5 separate regions of the Homo sapiens genome follow, and all the other regions are linked to region 5. The links come from fine-mapping of genetic effects on gene expression. A gene starts in region 5. Each other region holds a variant in brackets. All regions are shown on one strand. Distances are between the middles of the regions.

The links. PIP is the estimated chance that this variant, and not a neighbour inherited with it, causes the effect. A credible set is the group of variants that fine-mapping cannot tell apart.
Region 1: its variant is the best candidate, but not a certain one, in a credible set for the expression of KCNAB2 in whole blood (TOPMed, PIP 0.51).
Region 2: its variant is the best candidate, but not a certain one, in a credible set for the expression of KCNAB2 in whole blood (INTERVAL, PIP 0.87).
Region 3: its variant is the best candidate, but not a certain one, in a credible set for the expression of KCNAB2 in skeletal muscle (GTEx, PIP 0.81).
Region 4: its variant is the best candidate, but not a certain one, in a credible set for the expression of KCNAB2 in whole blood (TOPMed, PIP 0.66).

What each region holds. Positions count from the first base shown.
Region 1 is chr1:5,876,301-5,881,398 of GRCh38, reverse strand. It overlaps NPHP4 (nephrocystin 4), which reads left to right. Exons shown (of 30, transcript NM_015102.5): 19 at 1,160-1,285; 20 at 4,101-4,306. Among named protein-coding and RNA genes, the nearest start is that of MIR4689, 16 kb to the right of the region's middle. RefSeq lists an enhancer at 1,087-1,591. The variant G/T (reference allele first, on the strand shown) is at 3,139.
Region 2 is chr1:6,091,485-6,096,582 of GRCh38, reverse strand. KCNAB2 (potassium voltage-gated channel subfamily A regulatory beta subunit 2) reads right to left here. Exons shown (of 16, transcript NM_001199862.2): 11 at 2,098-2,183; 12 at 1,140-1,260; 13 at 959-1,053. Among named protein-coding and RNA genes, the nearest start is that of KCNAB2, 48 kb to the right of the region's middle. The variant C/T (reference allele first, on the strand shown) is at 3,118.
Region 3 is chr1:5,852,522-5,857,619 of GRCh38, reverse strand. No RefSeq gene overlaps it. Among named protein-coding and RNA genes, the nearest start is that of MIR4689, 7.7 kb to the left of the region's middle. RefSeq lists enhancers at 1-105, 3,729-4,573. The variant C/T (reference allele first, on the strand shown) is at 3,065.
Region 4 is chr1:6,098,507-6,103,604 of GRCh38, reverse strand. KCNAB2 (potassium voltage-gated channel subfamily A regulatory beta subunit 2) reads right to left here. Exons shown (of 16, transcript NM_001199862.2): 16 at 2,425-5,098. The coding sequence ends at 5,031. It overlaps CHD5 (chromodomain helicase DNA binding protein 5), which reads left to right. Exons shown (of 42, transcript NM_015557.3): 42 at 1-1,818. Among named protein-coding and RNA genes, the nearest start is that of KCNAB2, 55 kb to the right of the region's middle. RefSeq lists enhancers at 475-974, 936-1,105, 975-1,476. The variant T/C (reference allele first, on the strand shown) is at 2,388.
Region 5 is chr1:6,043,800-6,048,897 of GRCh38, reverse strand. KCNAB2 (potassium voltage-gated channel subfamily A regulatory beta subunit 2) reads right to left here and starts at 3,010. Exons shown (of 16, transcript NM_001199862.2): 1 at 2,715-3,010.

The DNA of each region.
Region 1 (5,098 bases), 170 kb after region 5:
GTAGGACGGGCACTCCCTTTCCAGCCTCAGCTCAGACCCATTCTAGAGAGACACCTCCGTCAGCCAGCTCTGGTTTTGTCACCAGGAGAACCTGGGTTGGACGGAGGATATGGCTCACCTCCACAGGTGCCTGCACGTGGGCGTGCTCCCAGCACTGGGCTCGTCCTTGAAAACAGCAGCTTCTGACGGGCAAGAGGGGAAGGAACCTGGCGCAGCAGGTGGATCTGCTGCAGCCAAGGAGGGACCTGGCCAGTGTGGAAGTCCCTCCCTCCCCTAGGGCTGAGGGTAGGCAGGAGTGAAGGGATGCAGAGAGGCAGGAAGCCCAGGGGAAGGGGTTCCCGTTTTTAACAGCTCCCGGGAAAATGGTGAGGACATCCCAGGCCCGAGGGCACTCAACACTGCCTCGTCGGAATTAAGGAAATTGATGGCACAAGCATTTTGTGCGTACCCTGGGTGGTTCATTTTGGGACACAGCTTCGTTGGCGGTGCTCTGCCTCGCCCCTTGGGGAAGTAAAGGCCACACCGAGGTTGTGGGTCCCATCCTTGCAGGAGAGTGTGCCGTGGGCAAGCACGGCTTCCCCCAGGACACTCAGGTTTGCAAGTTGCAAGTTTGTAGGGTGCCACACCCACCGGCCGTGAGACACGCTTGTCCCGAGGCCACACCACTTGCTTGCCAAAGCCTTCTGTTATGAACACAACTCTGGTGAAGGCTCCAGTTTATGGGGGCTCTTTCACCCTGGGTGTGTGTGGAGCCAGACATTTGCACGTGTAAATGCACACAGGCCTATCCTTGATCAATGTGGCCATCGAGAGGCCGAGGTTAGAGTTTGTGAGGCAGCCCGCCTTGCGACCCAGAGATCCAGAAGTAAGAATCCATGTGCAGCGAACTGTGAGTGCCACACGCTTTCATTCGTCACCAGGAAACGGAGGCTGCCACTGACACGGCAGGAGAATGAAGACCTAGCTGAAAGTTCGCAGCAGAACGAGCTCCCACCTGTCTCTCAATTGCAAAACATTCAAAACAGAGGCGGTGGGGCCTTAGCGTGTCAGGGTGTAGATAGGCCATTTGAAAGCCACAGCCGCTTATGTGGTGGGTTGATCTGTTTCATCAGATTCTCATTTGGGGTTCATGTCTTATGTTGGGATGTTTTTCATGTAGGTCACCCGTGTGAACAGAAAGTGAGAGGTTGTAGCACATTGCCACCGTCCAGATCTCGGGTCATCTCAAACGATGGAGCCAGCCGCTTCTCTGGAGGCAGCCTCCTCACGACTGGAAGCTCAAGGCGTGAGTTTACACTGTTGGGCCCATGTGTGGGTGGGTCGTGAGTGGTGGGTGAGAGGTGGAAGACTGCGTGTGTGTGTGTGTGCATGCGTGTGTGCATGTGTGTGTGTGTGCACCATTCGTGGTGCTGTCAGTGCCCCTCTGCGTCTAGGACGGGACTGTGCTGTCCATGTGCAGGTGGGTCATGAATGGCGTGTGAGAGGTGGAAGGCTGCATGTGTGCACGTGTGCGTGTCTGTGTGTGCATGTGTGTGTGCGTGTCTGTGTGCGTGTCTGTGTGTGTTTGCGTGTGTGTGTGTGTTTGCGTGTGTGTGTGTGTTTGCGTGTGTGTGTGTGTGTGCGCACCATTCGTGGTGCTGTTAATGCCCATCTGCATCTAGGGCAGGACTGTGCTGTCCATATGCAGCTCGGTGCCCTGGCTAGATGCCCCTGTGGACCCACAGGCCCCACCGAGCCACCACATTGATCACACCCTGGTGCTCTAGGCTGGGCTCTGCAGGCGACTGTGCTGTTTGGAGAAGTGGGAACCCTGCCAGTGGCATTTGTGTCTGGTTGGCTGCTCATCTGCAAGGGAAGGAGAAATGGAGAGAAGGTCAGGAGGAACATAGACTGATTTTCAAAACAAGTTGAAGTACCCTATGTTGTGAACAGAAGAAAGAAGCCAATTATGGAGCTTGGGAAAGAAAGACCTGGTTTGGAGAGGAAGACCTGGGTTTGGTGAAAATGTGTTTCACAGCAGGGAGGCTCTGAAGTTTTTCTATCCCCTTAAAATGTAAGGCCTCACAGACCTGAGTATAAAGTACTTGTCATTTGAATTACAAGTGGGAAGTGCTCTTTAAGGAGCATTTTCCCCAGAGGTTGCAGATCATCTGTGTGAATTCACAGCTGCCGTGCGCTTTTGTGTGTTGCTGGGCCTTGGAGCTGTGGCTTGTTAGAGGTGGGAGGGGCAGTTAGAGGTGGGAGGGGCCGTTGGGTTCCCTCCTGCAAGGCTTCCAGGATCCCACAAGGCCCCTGAAACTCTGGGTAAACTTGTATGTTCTCCCTGGGAGCAGACATGAGGGGCTCAAAGGGATTCATGATCCAGGCAGATAGAGTCTGTTGTTCTGGGCCAGCTTCCTCATTGTAATTTTGAAGAAACTGAGACGAAGAGAGGTCAGGTGACTTGGCCAGTGCCGTGGCTAAGGGGTGAACTTGGCTTAGAATCTGGATTCCCTGCCCTGGGGTCAGTGCCCTTCATCCTCAGCTGGTCCCACAGACCACCTAGAGTACGGTGGAGAGCCAGCTCCTTAGAGAGAAGTCCCTGAGCTCCAGGAGCCAGGCTGAGGTTATTGATAAAACCCTGCCTCCAGGCGCAGCAGGTCAGGAGCTCAGCTGTCAGGGAGCAGGAACCCAGAAGGCCTTGCTGAGACAATCAGAGGCCCTGAGGTCAGTGATCCTCCAGACCCTGTTTTGCTCAGGACCAGGACAGGAGGTGTCCCTTAAAAGCACATGTCTCACCCATGAGGCAAGGCTCTGCAATTAGCAAGTTGCACGAAATTTTAAGAAGGTTCTCAGTGCTTCGTGCCTTACCCCAAGTGCAGTTTCACGGTCACTCTGTAACTTTCTTTCTGGTTTCATTGGGACCACGAGAGGTATTTGTTGGGGTGATGCAATCTGAAAACTTGAGCTCATGATAAACCCCAACTTGCGCAGGCCCCAGGTCCCTCCACTCACAGCCGTGGCTGCAGGTAGCTCAGACCAGGCCTGTGCCGGAGACTTGTAAGAGCCACGCGGGGCATCTGCAGAGCAGTTTGCCGGCGTTAAAATTGGATGGTGGTGAGGGACCTGACAGTGGCACTGTTTCCTTGTGAGAAGGAG[G/T]CGGGGGTCACGTTGCTGTCCACTGTGTGGAGGCTTCTGCAGGGGGTGCCCATGCCCCATACAAGTGGAACCAGGCTGGGAGAGCTCGGGCTGGCATTGGTTTCCTGTGGGAAGTTTCTGCTGGTGCCAGAGAGTGAGGAAGGACCCAGGCCCTAAGCTGGTAAGCTGGGGCGCCTCTCAGCTGCCCTGCCTGTGCCGGGCTGAGCGATTTTCTGGGAGCCTCATGTGTCAGCCTTTGGCGTGGCCTGGTCACCCAGCACAGCCCCGCCCGACACCCCAAGCCCCTGCTCTGTGTCGGAAGGAAGGGCCTGGCCCATCCAGTAGTGGCTGAGCCTTTGCCTGCCAGTGCTTGACCCTGTTCAGCTTCTGTTGGTTTGCTAAATGAGTCATTGTGTGTCCCTGGTTTGAGTAGGGCCACCCCAGAGGAGGCGGGCTGTCCTGGGGGCCAGGCAGTCCAGGGTCAGCTGGGATGGAGTTGAGAGCAGGAGCTTGGGGGCCAGGCCTGCTCTGAGCTTCATCGCCTGCCCCCCACTCACTGAAGGCCTCCTGCCAAGGGGACAACCCCTTACCCCCATTCCTGATCCGAGGGGCTGAGGCCAGCAGCCCTGGGTGAAGGCATTAGTGGGCCCTTTAAGATCCCGAGAGCATGGGCTTCTAGAACGTGGCCTTCTTCCCTAGAAAACCCCCTGGTGGTGTGTTGACAGCGTTGGATCTAAGGGCCAGAGTCAGAATTGCTTTTAATTTGAAGGCTGAGGAAAGGAGGGGATGCTGTGGAAACCAGGGTATAAAGTTATCATCTTTATCTGGATCTCAGAACTCTGCAGATTGGAGCTGCAAAAAGCATGAGCCGCACTCTTGAGCTCCCTCCCTATATAGGTGGTCCTGGGAGGCCTGCCCTGGTGTCTGCTCCTGGAAGGCAGACACTGCACGTCTACCTGACTCGCGCTCTGACCCTTTCGCAGGAAAACACGTGGTGCAAGCACAGAAGCTGGCGGACGTGGACAGTGAGCTGGCTGCCATGCTACTGACCCATGCCCGGCAGGGCAAGGGGCCCCAGGACGTCAGCCGCGAGTCGGATGCCACCCGCAGGCGTAAGCTGGAGCGGATGAGGTCTGTGCGCCTGCAGGAGGCCGGGGGAGACTTGGGCCGGCGCGGGACGAGCGTGTTGGTAAGGGTTTGTTCAGCTGTCACTGTCCTGGGATCTCCATGCAGACTGAGTCACTGTGCACATCCTTTCCCTGCCTCCCACATGATTCTCTCTTACCTTCCTCCCAAATCCTGGGGACAGAATATAAGAAAATCGGACTTTTTCAGCCACCGGGGGAAATCTTTAAGTGAGAATTATCTGGAGAGCTTTTAATAAAAGCCAGTTCTTGGGCGTCACCCCTGGAGATTCTGATACTGATTGGTGTGGGCAGGACCCCTGGAGCCTGGGTTTGAAGAAAGCTTTGCAGGTGATTCTGAGGCTCTCCCAGGTCTGGGGACCAGAGCTGTGAACAACTGACATATCCTGGGTTGTCAATGTAATCATTCTGGCTAGAAAAATTCCCCTTTTTGGCTGAAAATCTAAATAGAACTTTTAATATTTTGCTACTAAGAAATGGGAGGTGAGAATGGTTGTACCTCCTGGGTTCATAGAAGTCGGGAACCACAGGGGCCTTGAGAAAGATCTCCTGAGATTCCCCCTTGCATGTAGGTAGGCCGGGGTCTGAACAGAGGTGGCCCTTTTCCTGACAGTAAACTCAGCAGGGCTGCCACTCAGCCTCCCTGCCAGCAAGGCGTTGGTGCTCAAAGGTGGATGCAGACGCCTCGGTCCCTCCCTAGGCTCAGTTCAGTCTGATGGGGCGAGGAAGAGGCATGGTGAGAAGACACGGGGTGAGGAGGCCTGGCCTGATCCCACAGGACTGGTGGGCTCAGTGGTCAGGGAGGAGGGAGGGACTAGAGGGAGGCCAGGGCAGGG
Region 2 (5,098 bases), 48 kb before region 5:
ACCCCCACGTGCAGGGGGCCGATGGGCTCATTCCTTCTGGACCCTTCTCCCTCATAGGGGCTCTTCTCATCTTGAAGCCAGGGCAGTGCCCCTGCCCCAGGCCTCTCAAGTAGGGGAGAGTGGGCAGTGGGCCGGGCACGGGCTGGTGGATGAGCGGGGCCTGTCCAGGCTCTGAAGTGCAAAGACTGTGGTGCTGGCCCAACCCCAAGTCAGGACAAGGAGGCGAGGTGCTGGCCTTCCTTCTCTTAGGAAACTTGGCAGCCTGGGGTCTCGGCTGCCACCCGTGGCCCAGAAGAACCTCCTGGCCCTAGGGGAGTGCTCTCTCCCCTGGCCATCCCCCCCAGAGGATTGCAGGGCCTCCTGGAGGGGGGCCCTGACCTTGCCATGGGATGGGAGGAGTCGGGGGCCAGGCCACGTTGCCCTGGAACCCAGGGCTGTGGGCCCCAGTGCTGAGACTGCTGGCTGGGCAGACTTTCTTGGCCTGCTCCTTGTTCTCCAGATCCTGCAGTCTGGGGACCCTCCTGAGTCCCCACTCAGAGGTTGTGTGGTGGGGAGGGGCGCCTCTCCCAGGGTCACCTCCATGTGGCTTTGCAGCCCCCATCTCGGAGCCCAGGCCCAGGGGTCTCAGAGTTCTGAATGCTGGGCTGTGGTGGGGGGCAGAGGTGGGGGATGTGGTAGGGGGTAGAGATGGGGGGATGTGGTGGGGGCAGGGGGGGGGATGTGAAAGGGCCTCTCCACTTGGGCCTGTGCCACAGGCTGGGCAGCCCCTCTACACATGGGATCAGGCCAGGAGGGGCTCCATGTTCTCACGCCAAGGAGCCCGCCCCCAGCAGACCGAGGTGGGAACAGCTGCAGCTCCCGGAACCCCTGCCCAGCACCAAAGCAGTCGGCCCAAAGGTCCCACCCGTCCAAAATGCCTATCCCCTGCCCGTCCCTCCCCACCAGGCTGTTCCTTCACCTTCAAGGAGGCTCTTGAGTAGGGTGGGATGCCACTGTCGTACTTGCCAGAAACAATGCCACAGGCCAGAGGGGACCAGGTCATGGCGCCCACTCCTGAAGAGGAAAAGCAGGTGGAGTCAAGCCCTGGGCCCGAGAGCAGGGGTGGGGTGGGGCGGGGCGAGGGGCCCGAGGGTGCCCACCTATCTTGTGGAACAGCTCCGGCAGCTGCACCTCCACTTTCTCACGCTGGAACATGTGGTACTCAGCCTGCTCGCAGATGGGCGGGGTCAGGTTGAACTGCCGGGCCACGGAGTAGGCCTCCTGTGAAGGCAGAAAGGGACCCCGAGGGCCCTTGCCTGTGAGCAGGCGGGAGGCTGCCGGGGCAGCCATGGAGAGGGCACCAAGGTGTCCCCGGAGCAGGCTGGCCCAGCAGCTGCAGCCCGGGCTCCCCACTGCTCACACTCATAGCTTCCCTGGGAGCCAGGCAGGCCCTGGTGAGCTGGGAAAAGGAGGTGGGTGGTGGGACCCCCAGGCCGGAGGGTCCAGTTATGAGCAGCCCAGGCTCTGAACCACACAGCCTGGATGTTAATCTTGGCCCAAGCTGTGTGACCTTGGCATGTTACTGAACCTCTCTGTGCCACAGTGTCCACATCTGAAAAATGGGCTGCCTGCGGCACTCACCTGGTAAAGGCACCGGTGAGGATTGCATGTGAGAGGGTCCCTGTGGAACCCTTGACCCTAACAGCACCGGGCACGTCTCAGGAGCCCAGTGGAAACAGCTGACGGTGTTGTCACCCCAGAGTGCTTGCTGAGCTCCAGGGCATCTGCTAAGAGCTTCACACTGGCTCTCTCAGGGACTCCTTAGAATGGCCCCATGGGGGCTCACCTAGCAGATGTGTTCTACAGGTGGGGAAACAAGCTCAGAGACGTTAAGCCATTTGTCCAGGGCCACACAGCGCTGGGATCCATGCAGAATCCCCGTCTGCAAGGCCTACAGACATAACCACCACACTCCACCATCCTGTCCCTCCCTTAGCACCCAGGCATCGGTGCAGTTGGGACCAAAGGCACAGACCCCGCCAGAGCTTTGGGGTCTCCATACGCAGCCGGTGCCGGGAGTCTGTGCCTGGACACACACATGCTGCGCGGCCACCGTACCATGATCTCCATGGAGCTCCAGCGTGACGTGCCCCAGTACATGGCCATCCCCTGGTTGATGACGTGGGTCATGGCGCGGACGGTCTCTGTCGTGAGAGAAAGGGAAACCGCAGGTGGGGGGCAGCCAGGGCTCAGGGCCAGCCTCGGGACATTCTGCAAATACAGGCAGGACGCTGGGAGGAGGGACAGGGGCTGCGAAGATGTCTTGCAAGCAGTGTACTTCCTGGCTCTGAAGTTGGGTGTGGGAGGGGTTTTTTGGGATGAAAGAGAAAAGTGAACCACAATCCTAGAAGTTGGTCGTGAAAACAATTTCCCCGACTGGTTACAGGCCTATGGAAATGTTGAAAAATGGGTTATGGATGGACCGTGATGTTTCTATGGTAGATTAGAGGGGACAATCAAAGAATGTGGCTCTGGACTCTAGAACTGGAGGTTCTCTGGTCTGGGGAAGATTCGAGGGCCCCGATCACTCAGGAAGGACCAGGTGAATGCATGAACGTTACAGTCAGATTGGCGGCAGGAGGGACATGTGTTTTTGCGTTTCTGGTCTCCTACTTCGGGCTATTCCAAAGTCTAATTGGAACAGAGAGTGGGCTGGATAAGGAGATGTGGCAGGACCTGGGGCGCCATATGGTCCCGGAGAATAGGGCTTCGGGGCTGAGCTCATGTTTCCTGTCATGTCCAGGAGACTGAGAAGTGGGCGTGGAAAGCCTTGTAAGACCATGGCCCAGGTTCTCAAACCAGCCCAGCACCAGGCCAGAGTCCCAACCCGCCTGTCCCCTGGCAAGGGGTGGTCCCAGGGCCACAGGGGTCTGGGTGCTCCTCCTGTGAGGGGCCAGGGCCTGGAGTAGGACAGTTTTGAGGCTCCATGAGCCCTGGGAACAACCTGAATCGTGGACGGCGGAGACTCCTAAGGCCCTGAGGATGAAATCGCGGAGACTTCACGCTGGCCTTTTAAAGAAGAGAGGAGGGACCCTCGCCCCAGCGACACAGTGGATTCTTCCCAATATTCAAACATGG[C/T]TTTGAGACACAGCAATCTGCTGGTTATAGCTCCCTCTCAGCCTCATGGGGATATTGTGATTTTAAAAACAGAACTTGGCGTCGAAATTTCAAATTTCAGAAGCCTCTGAGCTTTGCAGGGCGAGGGACTATGGCGCTAGGCTTCTCACGGGTCGGATACAGTGCTTGCAAGTTCGACCGCCAAAGGCAGTGTGGGAGTGAGTGGGAGTGCAAGTGTTTCTAAAGACAGCAACAACGTTGACCCTGGAAAAGCCCTGGCTCTCCCTCAGTGCCTGCTTGTCCTTTGCCCATGCTGCGTGGAAGCTGAGGTCCTGAAAATGCTGGGAGTGGGGCTGATGGGAAGGAAGGAAGGATGGAAGATGCTGGGTTTGTTCTGCAGGCTCCCCCCTGGAATGGCAACGAGGCCACAAAGTGGCAGTGCTGGCTTCCCGTCCACTTCTGTTTTGGGGGTCGCTCCCTGAGTGCCCCTTTACTGAGGTCCACCCTGAGCAGAACCTGGGGCCTCCTAAAGGCTAGAGCTGAGGCCACTGGGGTTTCTGGAGTGGTGGTCTCGGCAGACTCACCCAGGACCCCTGGCAAACCACCCTTGGCTTCCACGCTTGCAGGCCCAGCCCTGCTCTCTGCTTACTTCCAAGGTCAGAGGTTGTAGCTCCTGGGAATCCTCTCTGTCCCCTCCTGGGGGTGGAGATCTGGGAGGGAGTCTGAACTCTCTGGGCCACCTCCCTGGGCCACCTGCTTTAACTGCCAACTCCGATAGACCCTCAGGAAGTGCCTGGTTGGGAAAGTTTGAGGAGAACCTAGAGGGTCCCAGGAGAATCTCTGACTACATCCTGCCCAGGTCCGGGCTCCTGGCCTGCCCGGCCTTGTGGTTTTTTAGAAACACTCTCGGGGCACCTGTGAGCATGCAGCATCAGTTCCCGATTCTTCTCAGCCAAGGCTTAGGTCCACATGCCAGACAGAGGGAAGCCAAGGCCCCCAAGGCCAGCCCCGTTCCCTCACTCTCCCTCCCCGGCAGCTGTCTCAGGTCTCCAAGGTCCCAGCCAGTGAAACCGCATGCTGCCCTGCGGCGCCCCTTCCATGCAGTGATGGAGAGACGGGGCTGACGGGGCAGGAGCCTCTGGCTGTCCTGAGGTGGGGAGTCCTAGGCAAAGGCCCCTGGGCTCCCTGGAGGATCTGGGCAGAAGCAGGCTGGACAGGGAGCCCACATGAGGGAGCACCCTGCACTTGTGCCCAAGTGTGATATCAGTGGCCCCAGACCCAGGGACAATTAGGGACAACTGTCCTTCACCTCAATATTTAATGGGGTTGAACGGAAGTAGGAAGACTGAATCCTTCTAGCTGCTGCCAAAACTCACAGCATCTCCTGCCGCATCACAAATAATACATGGGGGTTCAGGTGGCAGCACCAGTTGGCAGACAGGGGCCCAGGCCCAGGGAGATCGACACCTGCCCTTGGGGTGGGGTCCTGGGGCCGTTAGCTGTGGGGAGGGCAGAGAGACTGTGCGTGGCCAGAGGCCACCCCCTGGTTTCAGAAGGCTGCCGGCTCCTGTGGTTATTCTTTCAGGAGGAAAATGATTCCACGTTGATGGAGCGCTTTGGCAACCTGGTGAGAGGGGACACGCAGCCAGCATGCCGTCCGAGGAGCAGCGTGCTGTGGACGGGGCAGCGTGACAAGCCAGGTGATCTCTGCCTCCAGGAGAGACAGGAGCTTAGCAAACATAAACCATGGAGGAGCTAAGACTCGGTGGGGGGCCGCGTGTTTTGGGGTCCCTGATGGCTTTGCTCCTTGTGGAAACCTGGTCTTCCCCAACCCTTCCCATGGCACCATCCAGGGTCAAGGCTCCAGGTGGGGATCACAGCATCCTCAGATCAAGAGGACCCCCGGCCGCCGCGGAGCTCAGCAGTGCAAGCCCAGGGGTGGGGGCCATGCACGGGAGGAAGGAGGAACGAGGGGATGGGGGGCTGGGGGCGAGGGGCTCCA
Region 3 (5,098 bases), 190 kb after region 5:
CTCATGTTTGATAATGATTTAATGCTATGTTTGTCTGTATTTAGAAATAAGACACTTTTTAAAATTGTTGCCTCAGGTTCTAAGAGGGTGGGGAAACAGCCATTATTGCTTCCCTGATGACCGCTTTTTCTCCTGTGGACGGAGGCGCTGCCGCTCTCACCCCAGCAACCTCGGGTAGCACTTACCGGGAGGTGCGCTGAGGCCTTGACAGAGAAAGAGACAGAGGGCTCAGGAGCAGCTGGTGGCGTGCCCACGGGAGGTATTCAGGTGGGTCGCTGTCTCGCACGGCCCAAGCACAGTGGGTCTCTCTGGCCCTGTGCAGGATGCCACCCTACAGACGGGAAATGAAGAATGTAGACCCTTCCTGCCTGGAGGACGCTGGCGCTCCACCTGCCGCACTCCGCTGGTGATGCCACGTGGGCCCCACTGGCTCTCCTGACCCCAAGCCAAAACCACGCCTGAGCGGGTCCACAGGAGGCTGTGCAGCGCCCGGGAGCTTCTCTGCAGGTTGGGCAGATCCACCTCGGGCCAGGCCCCTGGGTTTCAACACTACCCCTCACCTCTCCGAGGGGGTCCTGGGAAACCCCTTGCTGGTGGGAGAATGGATGACTGAGGAACAGTCACCCCAACTTCAGGGGTTGAATACTGTCCCTGCAAAACTCACATACACTCAGAACCTCAGAATCCGGCTGTTTGGGAAGAGGGTCTTTGCAGATGAAACGAGGGCTTGAGATGAAGTCATGTTGATTGGGGTGACCCTAAGCCCAGGGAGAGTGTCCGTATGGGACAGAAAGGGACACGTAGAGATGGTTCCGTGGCGACAGAGGCAGAGGCTAGAGAGAGCCACAAACCAGGGATTACCAGAGCCACCGAAGCTGGAGACACCTGGGACAGATTCTCCCTCCGACCCTCCAGAGGGAACCTGCCCTGCCCTCACCTTGATCTCAGCCTTCTGGCTCCCAGGGCTGTGGGAGAATAACTTCCTGCTGCTGTGAGTCACCAACTTTGCAGCAGTTGTTTACGGCAGCCTCAGGAAGCGAACATAGGAGTCGTGGGACCTGCAGCTCCCTGGAGGTCCTAAATAGTCACATAATTAGCAAATGAAGGTCCCTAGTGCTGGGGAGAGAAGGTCTGGTGTAAGTCTAAGGAGTGACCCCATCGACAGGGTGGCCCTTGGTGCGTGTAGAGAAGCCCCTTGGGTGGCCGTCCTTGGCCACGAAGAAGCCGCGTCATCCTGGCTGGTCAGCCGTCCTGAATTGAGTAGGGACTCCAGGTTCTCAAGGTAAACTTTATCACAAGAATTCAACCTTGAAATAGCCACGCGCCAGTGTGAGTTTCTCCTGGAGGCAGAACCTCTAGGTGGGGGCTGTACCCACATTTAAGGGAAAGAAGCAACAGCCCCTGTGTGTGTGACTCAACACGGACCCAGGTTCTGAGACAGCTAGTAGGGGCTTGAGGGAAGGAGTGTGGTCTCCAAGGCATGTGGGGCCCTGGTACCAGGGTCAGTGCTGTCCACACTACCCTCCTGGGCCACCCCGGGCTTCACTTGCCCTCACGCCGCCCTCTCATCCAGTGCTCATGGCAGCTGCTGCGACTGTCAGGAAACACAGACCTGATCCTGTCGCCTCTTTTGCGTAAACCTTTCAGAGGGTAGGACGCAGGCAAGGATCCTCTCTGGGGCCTGCAGGCCCATCCTCTCCTGGCTCCATCCCACCCTCTCTAACCACTCGCCCTGCTCAGGGCGCAGGGCTGGGCTGTTTCCTGCTTCTGAAGCCTCTCTGTGCCTTGGTCTCCTCCATGAAGGTGCATTGAGCTGACCAGGTAAGAGCTGGGTGCAGCAGGTCCCCTGTGGTGCGCTGCAGGACTGTCCCTGATCATCTGCTGCCCCTCCTGCCCAACGCCATCTGACTGGCAGTGTCGCTATGGGAGGGGTGTCCACCTGCGGCTTGCGGGTGTGGCCGATGGGATGTGGACAGAAGTGACCCGGCCTTGCCTCAGCAGGCCTTTTCCCTCTGCCCATAGGGTCCTGTCTCTGCAGGGAGCTGAGAATGGGGGATCTTTAATTAGCATTCTCTTCTCCAGCCAAGCCAGCCTTCCTTCCTGGGGGGACCCTGTCCTCCCTCTGTTGGGCCATCAGCCTGCGGGAGGCTCCATGTGGCTGGGCCCTGCATGGAGGTGCCCCGATTCTCTGGGCTCCGGGGTGGGTGGCGTCCTCTCTCAGTGCTCTCCCTCTGCCTCTGGAACAAGAGCAAGTGCCAGGGTCAGGGTGCCGCGTGGGCAGCTCCCCGTGCAGCGAGTCCTGGCCCGTGTCTGTGGGGAGTTCGGGACAGGGGAGGGGTCAGCCTTGTGCAGTGGGCTATGAAATTTGGGATTTTCGAGGGTAGCTGTCAGGCTTCTGTTCACATTGCTGACCCCCCACAGTGGTCCCCTAAATGATTCATCATTTAAAATGTCCACCTTAATTCTGCTTGCTGGGAGCTCACATGAACTGGTCCTCTGTTTGCACACTGGATTTGTTGGACTTTCACTGGACCAATGCTATTGGGCGCCTTTTGTTTGCAAGGGACAGACACCCAGCTCAAACCAGCATAAGCCAGAAGGCAGCTGTGATGGTTTCTCATACCTTCTGGGGAAACTCCGTCTTCAGGCATGGCTGGATCCAGTTGCTCAGATTCTGTTGCCAGGAGCCCATGCCCCTCCATGGTTTTACTCTGCCTTTTCGGTGTCAGCTCTGCTCTCAGACAGGCTCTCCCCTCAGTGCAAGGACAGTGCTAGCTTCAAACTCCTAGTTATGTTTTTCTGGAGTGAAGGGCCCAGGCTTTACTCTGTGCCTCTCTCTGGCTAAGTTATATGTCCAGCCCTGAACCTGTGGCTCTGGCTTTCCAGCCCCGGAGCAGGAGGGTTGGTTGGAGTGGTTAGAGAGCCTGGGGGAGGCTGCTCCCTGGGGGCTGTTAGGGAAGAAGGGGGTTGGGGGAATGGGGGAATGCTGGGCAGACCACACCCACCAAGGTCTGAAGTGAGCTTGGAAGGGGTGGCGTGTGCTACAGGGTGGCTGAGGTCTCCT[C/T]GTGGACTCACCTCTCTGCCTCCACCCCCAGAAGAAGAGCAGATGCCATGTCTGTCATTGGTTCCTTTACTATCCCTGCCCCTGAGGGGCCACTGCTGTCATGGAGTGAGATGCAGGCAGAACAAAGACAGCCTGTGGACACTTACAGGCTCGGAGATCCCAGCCTCGCCACACAGCCATCGCCTGCACACTGGCCGGATGCTGCTGGCCATGTCAGGAGCTGGGTGATGTGGGGCCCTGTGCACACGGGCCCTGAGGAAGCACCAGACTCCCCTGTGCTCTCCTCTGTGGGGAAAGGGGGTGATATGGTCTGGCTGTGTCCCTACCCAAATCTCATCTTGAATTGTAACTCCCACAATTCCTGCATGTCATGGGAGGAACCTGGTGGGAGGTGATTGAATTATGGGGGTGGGTCTTCCCTGCACTGTTCTCGTGATAAGGAATGAGTCTCACGAGATCTTATGGTTTAAAAATGGGAGTTTCCCTGCACAAGCTTTCTCTCTTTGCCTGCTGCCATCCATGTAAGACGTGACTTGCTCCTCCTTGCCTTCCATCCTACTTGTGAGGCCTCCCCAGCCACGTGGAACTGTAAATCCATTAAATCTCTTCTTCCTTTTGTAAATTGCCCAGTCTTGGGTATGTCTTTATCAGTAGCGTGAAAATGGACTAATACAGGGGGATCTCCCATCCTTTCCCCTTTCAGTCAGGAGTCTCTGAAACCCGTGAAATCACGTGCAGAATTCTGTGTGCAGAGGAATTTTCATGGAGGGAGGATCCGTAGCTTTCCCCAGACTCTCAAGGTGTAGGGCCTGCAAAAGGGTGAGATTTCGAGAGGAGACATCTCTGCTCAGAGCTGGGCCCTCGTGCAGCCTAAGCAAGTGCAGTTTCAGGAAGATGCTCCTGGTTGCTGGACAGGCTGGAGAGCTGGCCATGTGGGCTCATCTGGGTCATTCTTGATCCTGCTGGAGATTTGCACACCATGCTCAGCAAAAATACACCTTGGTGATCAGCCTCCTGGTGGTCTGCACCTGCTGCTGTCTTTGGAGGTTTTGCCATGGCTCCTGACTGTCTCCTGCCATCCCCCCACCCCATGGCAGACACAGCACCCTGTGAACACACCAGTCCAGGCAGGACCTCCAGTGGCTCCCACATCATTCAGCTGGAGTCCATGGGATGGCCCCAAGCCCGAGCCACTGCTCCCACCTCCCCTCTGCTGACTCCTCCCCTGGTCTGTGGCTCTGGCCACACATTTCCTTGCTTGTCAAATGTGTCCAGCAGGCTGCACCTCGGGGCATTCACATGCCTTTCCCTCTGCCTGGAATGCTCTTCTCCTAGGTAGCCACGTGGCTCACTCCCCGGCCTCAGTGGGGAAGGAGCTTTGATTGCCCATTCATCTGAGAGGCCTCCCCTGCATCCCACTCCCCAAATCACCCTCCCTGGGACTCCCGTTCTCCACAGCACCTCTCAGCTCCTTCATGTCTGTCCGCCTGCCACACATGGAGTTTGTCTTTGTTCCCTGCCAGAGGCTCTCCAAGAATATTCCTGGAAGAATTGAATGTTGCCAATTCAGCTGCCCCCCTGCCTGGAGTCCTCTGCTGCCTGACAGTCCACGAATCCCCTCCCGTCGGCCTTGGCTGCCACCAGCCTCCCCCACCAGCCCATGCAGGCCACTCCTAGCCAGAGCGAGGGCCTTCTCTGCACTCTGCCTGGAATCGCCCACGTGGCTGGCTCTTCCTTCTGTGGTGGTGCCTCCTAGAGAGGGCTGCCGGGCACCTGGCTAGGGGAGACATTTCCTGGGATAAGTCCTGAATGTAGGTGTGGTGTTCTATGGAGTCTCCCATCATGGTGGGGTCTGTGTTACCCCTGGGGCTAGGATGACTAGGATGCGGCGGGGGTGGCATGGTGCCCTGCCTGGGCTCGGCCCACTCTGCCTGCTGCTCTGCTCTTGAGCTCTCAGGACCCTGAGGGCACCATGGGGATAAGCCCACAAGAACCTACCAGGGGATGAGAGACCATGTGATTGGAGTCCCAGGT
Region 4 (5,098 bases), 55 kb before region 5:
AGGGTCCTGGCTCGGGTCAGAAGCTCACTCCCGTGCCCTCGTCCCCAAACAAGCAGTGGCAAGCACTGGGGTTGGCCCTCGTTGGGAGCAGTGCCCACCTTCCTTGGCCCACAGCAGATAGGTCCCGAGCAGCAGGACTGGAGGCCTGTGGCGGTCAGGGCAGGGGTCTGTGTCTCCACCCCAAGGGCTGATGGTCCCTCCCCTGTGCGCCTTCCTCTCAGGCAGGCTTGCTCTGTCCCTTCCTCTCTGCTTCCCTCCCAGGCCTCGCCAGGGCTCCCTTCTCCTCTGCCTGGTTAGACTCGGGCACCCAGGAAAGCCTGGCCAGGGCTCCTTTGGGCCTGGGCCCCCTGCACTGCCTGGTCCAGAAGGGGTGGTGCTGTCCGTGGCCAGCACCCCGGGGCCCGGGAGGGGTGGGCTACTAGAGTCAGAGCGGGTTTGGGGCTGACCAGTTTGGGAGAGGAGAAAAGATCTGAGAATGTCCTTCTTGGTTTGTCAGTCATCTCTGCCAAAAGTGGTGATGGTGGTGTCCGTATGTTTGGCGTCTTTGGGCTGGGTTTGGTTTTTGCTGCTGGTAGAATCAGGGTCCTCGGGCATGAACGCGAGCCCAAAGTGCCAGTCTGCGATTGGAAATTTCCAGCCACTTTAAGCCAGTGCTGAGTAGGGCTTCTGCAGAGCCATGTTTGAGCCAAGGTCTTGGAAGGCATTGCCCCATGGGCTCAGGTGACTCGGGGTGGAGTGAGCACGTCTGCAGGGCCCTCTCATACACGCCTGAGGCAGAAGCAGCGTCCCCCGTGAAAGCCACCTTCCGAAGCTCCTGCGTTTTTTGCAAACTTGGCTTCCCCCAGGGGCAGGCTGGACTTTCCCTGCCCCCTATGATTGAAGTCCTCCTGCTTTTGGGGGCTGCCTTCCCAGAGTCCCCCGGGTGCTCCCCTGCCGAGGTCAGGAGCTGACCAAGCCTTGGCCCGGTGACACCTGCAGCCCTCACTCCTGTCATCCCAGGACACTTGAGGCCCAAGGAGGTGGAGTGGAGAGTGGGCTCGGGTACATGGGAGCCAGAAGCCAGATGGACTTGGTCAAGTGTCGGTCACTTGGAGCCTCCAGTGTGCGTCAGGGTCTGTGGGCAGGGGACAGGGCGTGGGTGGGGGCCGAGGCTGGCACGCCCCTCTGCCCTCACCGTCTTGGTGACCTGGCCTCGGCCCCTCCCCCAAGTCTCTTCTGTGCAAGGCCCGCCTCGGCCTCGGCAGCTGGTTCCTGTCCTGTTTTCTGTGTCTGAAAGTTTACAGGTTGTGGTGCATCAGCCCAAACTCACTGGCGTTGTGTTTTTTTTTTCTTTAATTTTCAGATTTTTTTTTTAAACAAAGTATTTTTTTAGGTGCGATAACCCAGAAAGGGCCCGTTGGGTGTGTGTGTGTGTCCTGAACTCCTCAAGCAGCGATTGGAGCCCAAGCACCCCTGGAGAGGAAGGGAGGGTCCCCACTGGCCCGTGGGGTCTGAGTTCAGGGGTGTGGAGGGAGCAGACTCCACCGGCCCAGGCCCAGCTAAGAGGGGGCCGACCCCTTTCCCCAGGCACAGCCCCAGGCTGGCAAAGGGAGGGCCCTGGGCTGGGTGCAAGGCGCGCCAGGAGTCCCAGCCAGGGTGGCCCCGGCGGGGGCGGGTCCAGCTTTGGAAGCCAGGCTCCCCTGTGAGCCGTGGCTTGTCTGGTCTTCGCCCACGGGAGGCTGGACAGAGGCTGTAGCCAACACAATCACCTTTACTTTGTACTCTGTGTGTATGTTTTGGTTTTCTGTGTTTTAATAAATCCTTTGGGAAAGGATTTAATCAGAGGCTTTTTCTTTTTAAGATTCAAGATTTAGAATGGGGGTGGGGGCTGGGGCCAGGGAGGAGTGGTGGGGGGTGGGGGCGTGTCCGGAAGCCTTCTCTTGCCTGGGATGGTCATTTCACGGGTGCAGGGGCTCACTGGGAAGGAGGGGAGCCCGAAACAGGGGTGTGCTGGGGTGAGGCCCCTCTCACCTGTACCCCAAACACATACCATGAGAGCTTCCCCAGGCCTGGACCTCTGTCCTTATGAGAACAGCAGCCAGCCAGGTCCCCAGAGGGACAGCAGCCTCCCAGCAAGCAGCTTTGGGCCCTCAGAGTTGGTGAAAGAGAATGTGTGTGTTGGGGGCGGCAGGGGAGGCACGCACCCTCCCTTGGCTGAATCGCTTGGGAGAGATGGGGGACAGGTCTTCTGACCACCCTGTCCCCATTCTCTGTCCCCGCTCTCTCTCCACGGGCCCTTTCCAACCCACCTGCCCTTGGCTGCAGGCTCCGGTTTGGGGGATGCCCCAGGCCCTGCTGCTGGCAGCCTTTTCCTCCCCTCCCGTGTCACCCTGGCCCAGCCCTGACCC[T/C]GAGGAAATGAGAGGAGCAAAAAGTCACAGAGACCGATGGGTTTGGGCTTTATTTATTTTGTCATTCCATAAATACGGTGGCTGTGTCGCGGTCTGAGTCTCGTTTGGAAGCTCGAGGCATAGGACAGTCTCTGCCTGGGTAGGGAATGCAGTTAGCTGAGGAACCACGGTAGGTTTAAAAAAAAAGACTCGGGGAGAGAAAAAGCACATTATTTACATGACTGGACAAGGACAGAAGGTGGGAGGAAGCCCCTGTCACTCCTTGGGACCTGGGATCTGAGCACAAAGCTGAGTGGGAAACAGTGGGGGCTCCGAAGCGTCCAGCAGGGCCAGCGCCCTCCTTTCTAGACCCCGACTGCCCTTGGTCTTCTGCCCTTTCTTGGATGGTCCTACCCAATACCTCCTCCCGAGAGGGGGGACCTGGCCCTAGGAGGCAGAGCCCCCTCACATCCTCCCTGTAGATGGGTGTGGAGCAAGCAGGACATCCAGGAACCAGGTCGTGGAAAGAGCTGCGCCAGAGGCTGACTGCATCCTGACACTGGGGCCTGGCCTCTCTGTGTTTGGCAAACCCGCAGCCTTTGGGGGCTCAGCTGCCCCAGGTGTGCCTCGCATTAAGCAGCAGTGCCCACCCTGGGCACCACCTCGCGCTGGTCCCTCTTCCAACAGTGGGTGGGGCTGGGTGGCAGTGGGGATGGGGCCAGCCACCCTCCCTGATGGCGAGGGTGGGCCACCTGCCCTCTGGCACCATTGGCCACTGCAGGACCCTGTCCGGGAAGGAAGCAGGCGACCCCCACCTGGGCCCAGGGCCATAGGCTGGGACCTCCGTTGGGAAGGGACTTCCCCACCCCACACTCACAGGGCTGCTTCTGGTGAAGCAGGCAGCAGGACTGAGTGGAGACCCCCGGGACTTGGTCTATGAGGAGGGGCAAGGGTTCTAGGCGCCAGGGGCAGCATGAAGGGGGGTCGGTAATAGCAGAAGCTGATCCCCCTCCTCCCCTCGCCCCAGCCTCTCCCCGCTGGCCTTTCTGACTTTCACAGTTTCCCAGGCCTTGGCCCGGCCAGGACTGGACAGCAGGCTCCCGCAGGACGGCAGGGTGGAGCCTTCTGGAATAGTGGCTCCTCCAGGGGCAAAGCGGGAACAGAGGTGCCTGCACTGAGGGTGCGCCCTGGGGGCAGGAGACACAGGCTTCCCTATGGAGCTAGCTGGCGAGGGGTGGGGGTGGCTTCAGTGGAGCCCTGCCCCGCGTGGTCTGCAAAGCCTGGGTACTGCTTGGGACACAGGCCTGGGCCTGTAGGTGGCACCCCGCACCTGCAGACTTACTGGCATCCCTTGCCCTCCGGCCCAAGCTGCACGGGGGCGTCACTCTGGCCTGTCCTGCCCTCTCTCCCCTCTGCCCAGCCTGTCCCAGGTGTCAGGCAGTGGGAGGGGCTAACCAGCCCTGCCCGTCTTTCCAGGGAGAGGTTCCCTGAGGTCTTTTCCTACATTGTGGGGGTGCTGTGGGGGTGCAGCCCCCAAGTCATGGGCACAGAAAACCCCAAAGACCCTTCCTTACTGAAAGGGTCCAAGCATGCGCTCCACAAAACCCAAGCCCACCAGCTCGGTGCAGAGCAGCGGCCTGGGCTGGCGGGCGGCTTTAGAGAAAGTCTACAGGGGCCGAGAGGAGTGCATCCTTGTGCACAGGGCCGGCCCCTGCTGCCACTTGCCGTGGTGTGGCCAGCAGCCACCGTGCAGCTAGGAGCACATGACCACAGGGCCTTCCGGGGCCAGGACAGAGGGGTGGCCAGACAGAGGGGCCTGCCCCACTGGGACCCCTCCCAAGCGCTCCGGGCCTCACTGGCATGAGGCTCATCATTGGTGTGTAGGAGGAAGACGGTGGGAGGCTGAGCTAGAAATCACACCGCTACGCTTTTTGTGGCTCCCAAACTGCAGAGTCAATCCCCCTGGGGTCCCTGCCCCTGCCAGCAAGGGTGGGGGTGGGTGGGGGTCAAGGGCCAGCTCGAGCTTGGTAGGCATGGCCCCTGCCGGGACCCAGTGGGGCAGGTTGGAGCAGAAAAGGATGGGAGAGGAATCTGTGGTCAGGCCCCAGATTCCTGGAGCCCTTGGAAAGTGGGAGGTGGAGGAAGACCCCCAGTGGGGAGGCCCTGCCCCAGCAACCAAGGCCCTGGCAGAAGGGGCCCCTCGATGGGCCAGACCCCTTTCCCCTCTCCCCCTACACCAAGTGGGGATTCTCAGCAGAGGAGAGGCTGGCCCTGCCCGCCCCAAGGACCCAACCAGGCCTTGGCCTGGCCTTGACTTTGGGAACCTTGGAAATCTTTGGGCCTTGACTTTGGGAATCTTGGCTGTGGCTGGGAGAAAGCTGGGTGGTCTTGGAGGATGAGCAGAGGTGACAGGCTTGGGTGGGACCGTTTGAACATCCTTCCTAACCAGTGCCTTCCCCGGCACAGACTGGACTTCGACATTGTCCGGCGAAGCAGTGGGTGGTGTCTGGCAGCGACTTGGGAGATCATTTCCCGATGACATCACAGTGTGGTGTTTTCTCTTGGATGCAAACCACACTCTTCACTTGGCTTCAAAACAGCTTAAGCGAGCGAACAGAGACTAGGAGGGAACGGAAACTGTCCGAGCAGGCGGGCGGGGGCGGCTTAGGATCTGTAGTCCTTTTTGCTGTAGGGTTTATTGCCCAAAATACTATCAATCTCGTGGATAATGG
Region 5 (5,098 bases):
CACAGACAGCAGCACCAGCTTCCCTTCCCTGCCTACTGGCCGGCCACTCCCTTCCCTCCATGCGCGTGGCAGGCAGCTGCTTCTGAGGTGGCCATGTGGCTAGCTGCCAGTCCGGTGTGGGGCAAATGGGGGCCAACCCTCACTTCCCTGAGGTCTGTGTTTAGAAAGAAGGCCAGCTGGGCAGGCTGTAGCCCCAGGGCTCTTTCTGAAAGGCAGGACCAGCCTCAGACACGCAAGTTCCCTGCCTGGCCCGACCAGGCTGAGATCAATAGCCATTAGCTTTCAAGACATTACTCACAAAAAGCAATCCGGGTCTGGTTTGGCTCTAGAAATATAGCCAAGGCCCCGGGGCTGGAGGACGGGGTGGCTGAGTGCCCAGCTTCTGGACAGGGGCAGCTCTGCTTGTCACCTGCTCATGGTGTGGCCCAGGCAGGCACCTTGACCGCTCCCGGCCTCAGCCTCCACATCTGTGAGGTAGGCTGGGCAGAGGCCTGTTGTACCAGGCTGCTGTGGGCTGCATGAGATGAGGCTTTGGACAACTGGGTGGGAGTTGGTGACGCAGCCAGAAGACAGTCTGTTGGGGGGCGTGGGATAAGACACCAATTATGATAAATGCTGTGGAAAGAAAAATCCACCACCAGGGGCCAGCAGGCAGGGCGGGAAGGAACTTGTGACCACAGGTTTGAGTGAGAGGAGTGAGCCACACAGACACCAAATCTCCCTAGAAAATGCTTAAGGGAAGAGAACACAGATGTGAATAATCGCCCCCTTCACAACAAGATGGTGGAAGGCTGAGTTTGGGGATGTGAGTGGGAGAGGGGAGAGAGGGCAGGACAGAATGGGTTTTGTGGCCAGGATTTAGAGGGCGTCCCTCCCTGTGGGGGCCCGCTTGCAATCTTTCCTTAGAGCTCATGTTGCAGCCCTGGGAGCAGACCTGCAGGTGGGAGCCCTGCGGCACGGAGGGAGCCCAGAGCCTCTTGCTACGAGCTTGTCCCCATGGTGCCAGGGCAGGGCTTGGGCCAGGGAACTTGCGGGCACAGAAATGGCAGCCTTTGGCATGGGGTGGTGGGGTGAGGAGCAGGGCTGGTGCCATGAGGAGCCCATGGCCGCTGGACTCCCCTGAAGGTTGGGTCCAGGAGGGCAAGGACTCTTCTGCCTGCTGCCACTGCCCCCTGACCAGTGCCCACGGGAGTGTCCCGTGCACAGAGGAGGGGCTCAGATATTTGTAGAACAGTAACCAAGGCCCAGGCTCCAAAAGGCCAACCAGGGCTATACCTGGGCATTTCCTGGCAGTGCCAGGCAGCTGTTGGTGGGGGCGGGGCTGGCTTCCTACCTCAGACCCAGCAGCTCTTTGCAGGTCACCCTCTCTTGTGTGGGGGGGACTCCCATGCCAGGACTCTGTACAGCGGGGGCTCCCTGTGGTCCTGAAGGCTCATGACTCTGGGAGGGCTGCCCCAGGGGAAGAAGGATAGGTACAGGCAGAAGGCAAAGAGGCTCTGCCCGTTACCAGCGGTGCCTGGGGACAGAGGACACCTCTGGACTCCCTCACACTGGGGCTCTATTCTGGGCTTTTGCCGAGACTCTAGCAGCGTCAGGTCCTTGGACGAAGGGCCCCCCGGTAAGACACTGCAGGGAGGAGAGAGTGGCCCCACTGCCGGGCTCCTGCCTCAGGGTCCCCACTTCTCCTGTGCTCAAGAGCACAGTGACCCCTGACTTCCAATTCAAAATATCCCAAATCCCGGCCGCTTTCCAGAGTGAGGGTCTCTGAGCCCTGACACTCCCTCACCACCCTGGTACCAAGAAAAACGAGCCCCTCCTCAATAGCCATTGCTAATTACGTGGAACCCACAAGTTCTTTCCTGGGCTGGGCCTGCCTGGTGCAAATCTATTCCTGTAGATCAGGGGCCCAGGGGAATTCACGTGAATTAACACCGTGACATGGAAAAATGCAAGGAAGATGTTAACCTCATTAAGTCAGTAGGAATCACTACCTCACCCCAGACTCCTCTACCTGGAATTTCTGAATTGTTCTGTTTACTGAAAGCCAACAAAGCATACAACCTGAGATTGAGAAGGAACCCTGAGCATCTCTTCTGAATGGTGACACCTGTCCAGAGAGCAGAGAGCCCAGCCAGAGTTCTCCAAAGCGGAAATGGAAGGGGAGCTGCTACCATTCCGGGGTGCGGCTCTACAAGACACGGCATTGCTTCAGTGCAAACACAGAATGATTTTCGCTCAAGGACAATCAGCAAACTGAGGCCCAAACAAGCAGCCCCTGGCTCCCTCAGCACGTGCTTCCTGCACAGACATTTCAGACAAGACCAAACCTCCCTGACAGCGCTCTGGGCAAAACTGGAAAATGCTGAATCTTAATCAATGGTGAACACAGCGAGGTACGAGCTAGACGCCCGTGTCTCCGGCAGATGGGAAAACAGTCAGCCTTGGGCAGGTCTGGGCTGTGAGCAGACTCAAGCGAGAGGTGCTGCCCGGCTGAAACCTGCCGCCCACCACCCCATCCATCACGGTCATTCCAAGTTTACCTCAGGCTGGCTCTTTTTTAAGGTCTTCTGCTTTGCAAAAACACGGAGGGTCTAATTCCGGATCAGACAAAACCACCCCAAAATATGGTCTCCTCTGTTATTTTTCATTCCCGCGGATGCGTGCCCCCAAGCGGCATCTCCACTAGGAAGGTAGCGGCTGAAGGGAGGACTCACCTGCCTTCGTGGGGGCGTCTGCTCGTTAAAAAGGCCACAGTCTGGTTTATTAGGGATCACCAGACACTCTAAGGATCTGGCACAGCGGCTTTTTCATTAGGGAGTGTCACTGCAGGACGTCAGAAGCAATTGGTGAATGAGATGAGTCCCACCAGAGTCGAGTTTTGAGGCAGCGAGTCCATTAGTTCTATTAGGGCGTTTTCATCTCAGTGAAAGAGGCTGAATTATTCACGAGTGCCTCTTCCCCTAAAAGCTCGGGAAGTGCAGTTCCGTGCTGCAACCTGGCAAGGCTGACTCCCGGTGCGTGGGGTTGGGGTGCAGCCCAAGGTGAGGGGGAGGTCCTGCCCGTCCCTCAGGCCTACCCTTGCTGCCTCCACCATCCCCGCGTGCCAGAAACACAAACCTTTGGACCCACAGGTCGAAAGGGGCAGGCCTTGCTCTTTGGTATCTGAGTGCGGGACACAGAGCCTGTGGCTTCCGCATACCACTCAACTCTGAACTGTGTCTGCAGCAGGGGAGCTGGGGGCCCCGTCGTATGGGGCCACCACCCACAGCCAAGGGGGTCTGGAGAGGCCTCTGCTCAGCACACGCGCATGCTCCTCCTGTCCTCTGGGGATACACCCGAGATGGGTATATCTGATACTACCGGTAGCTATAAATGGCAGGAAGGCCCCAGAACCTGCTATTTGGACTCCACACTGCCACTCACTCCAGGCAGGGACACAGGAGCCCTTCTCCACGGCACATGTCCTGACCTGGGGTTTGGGAAATGCTTTGAGACTAGGCCAAACAAGGCTGAGCTCTGGGATGAGGCTAAGTGCTGAGCCCCAACCCCAGGGTCATGACCCCCAGGGTCACTGCGTGTCACAGGATGCCAGCAAAGTCCCAGCGTGACATCATCTTCCGGCTGAGAAAGCGCGCCAGTGAATGTGGGATTTTGAATGGAGGCAGAACCGTCCCCCCATGATGAATGAGCAAACAGTGGTAGCTGCCATGGGGGAAGGTGGGGGACAGGAAATCAGTGCCCCAGTCGCAGTGTGGAAGGTAAATGAAGTGGGAGGCTGGGAGAGCACGTAGAGTCTGGAGGTGCCTGGCTGCGGGTGACTAGCTGCGAAGGCCTTGGCAATTGAAATGGTTTGTCCCCAAAGGCCCAAGCCCACTCTGTCAGATCCCCACATGTCGCCCTGGTCGGGGGGCCTGCGCCTCACTACTGGGTGGTAGCTGCAGCCTAACATGCTCCGAATGAGGCCCTCTCCTTCCCTGGGTCCACTGCTCCTCTCTGTCCCTTTCTGTCTCAGCACCTGCCCATCAGTGGCCAAGCCCTGTGGACGTGGCTTCTGACGTCCTTTTTTCAGGCCCTGCACCCCTTCATTCTCTCTCTGTGCAGTTCCTGGAGCTCAGCCGTCCTGCACCTTTCCTGGGCACTGTCTGGTCTCCTTGCATTAGCCTCTCTCTTCCCTGTCTTACTCCCTGCTACCAGGCTTCCTTCCTAGAGCAGATCTCTGACCCCTGCCCTGCTCAAACACCATAGATGGCTCCCCAGTGCCCTCTGAGTGCATCTGTGCCCCATCGCTAGGCATTCGAGGCCCCCCACCAACATCCACCTCTACAGCCAGCCTCTCTTTATTCTCCATCATGTCCCTGATGGCCCAGGCTGGGTAACTGTCACTTCCTGTTCTCTGTGCACACCTCTGAGCTGTGGCTCAGGCTGTTGTATCTACTGGAATATGCTTCCCAGCCTCTGCGTTGAATCCTGCCCAGCCTTCAAGGACCAGATCCAAGCCCCTGCTGCCTTCTCCGTGAAGTCTTCTTGGCTCTCAGCTGGCTGTGGCCCCTCCTTCCTTGGACCCCAAATGCTCTTTGGGCTTCTCCTGTGACGTGCTCTGCCTTCTGGAGATCATCAGGGCTATTTGAGACCTGGGGTACATGGAAGTATTGCTCCCAATCCTTCACCCCTCTCTGTACCCATGCCCTTTGCCATGTGACTTTATAGCTCCTCCCACTGGTGGGGGCAATATATTTCCAGCCCCTTGACTGTGGGCTGGTTCCTGAGACTTACTTTGGCCAAAAGCACGTGAGCAGAGGTGACAGCGCTCTGACCCCAACCATAGGCCGTAAGAGACCCTGCATGTTTCTGCTTTTCCTCTGGTACTTTTGCCATGGGAAGGACATGCCTGGGGTAGGCCCCAGTTAAGCATGGGAAGATGGAGGACATGGGGATCCAACTTGCAGCTTGGAGACAAACCCAGCCAAGCCAGCTTAGACGAGCTGCCTGGTCAACCCGCAGACACGGGAGCAAGGAAGAGATGCTGATTGCTGCGTGGCACTGAGTTTTGGAGTTGTTTGTTATGCAGCACTTGGTGGACAGCTGATTGGCACAGTGT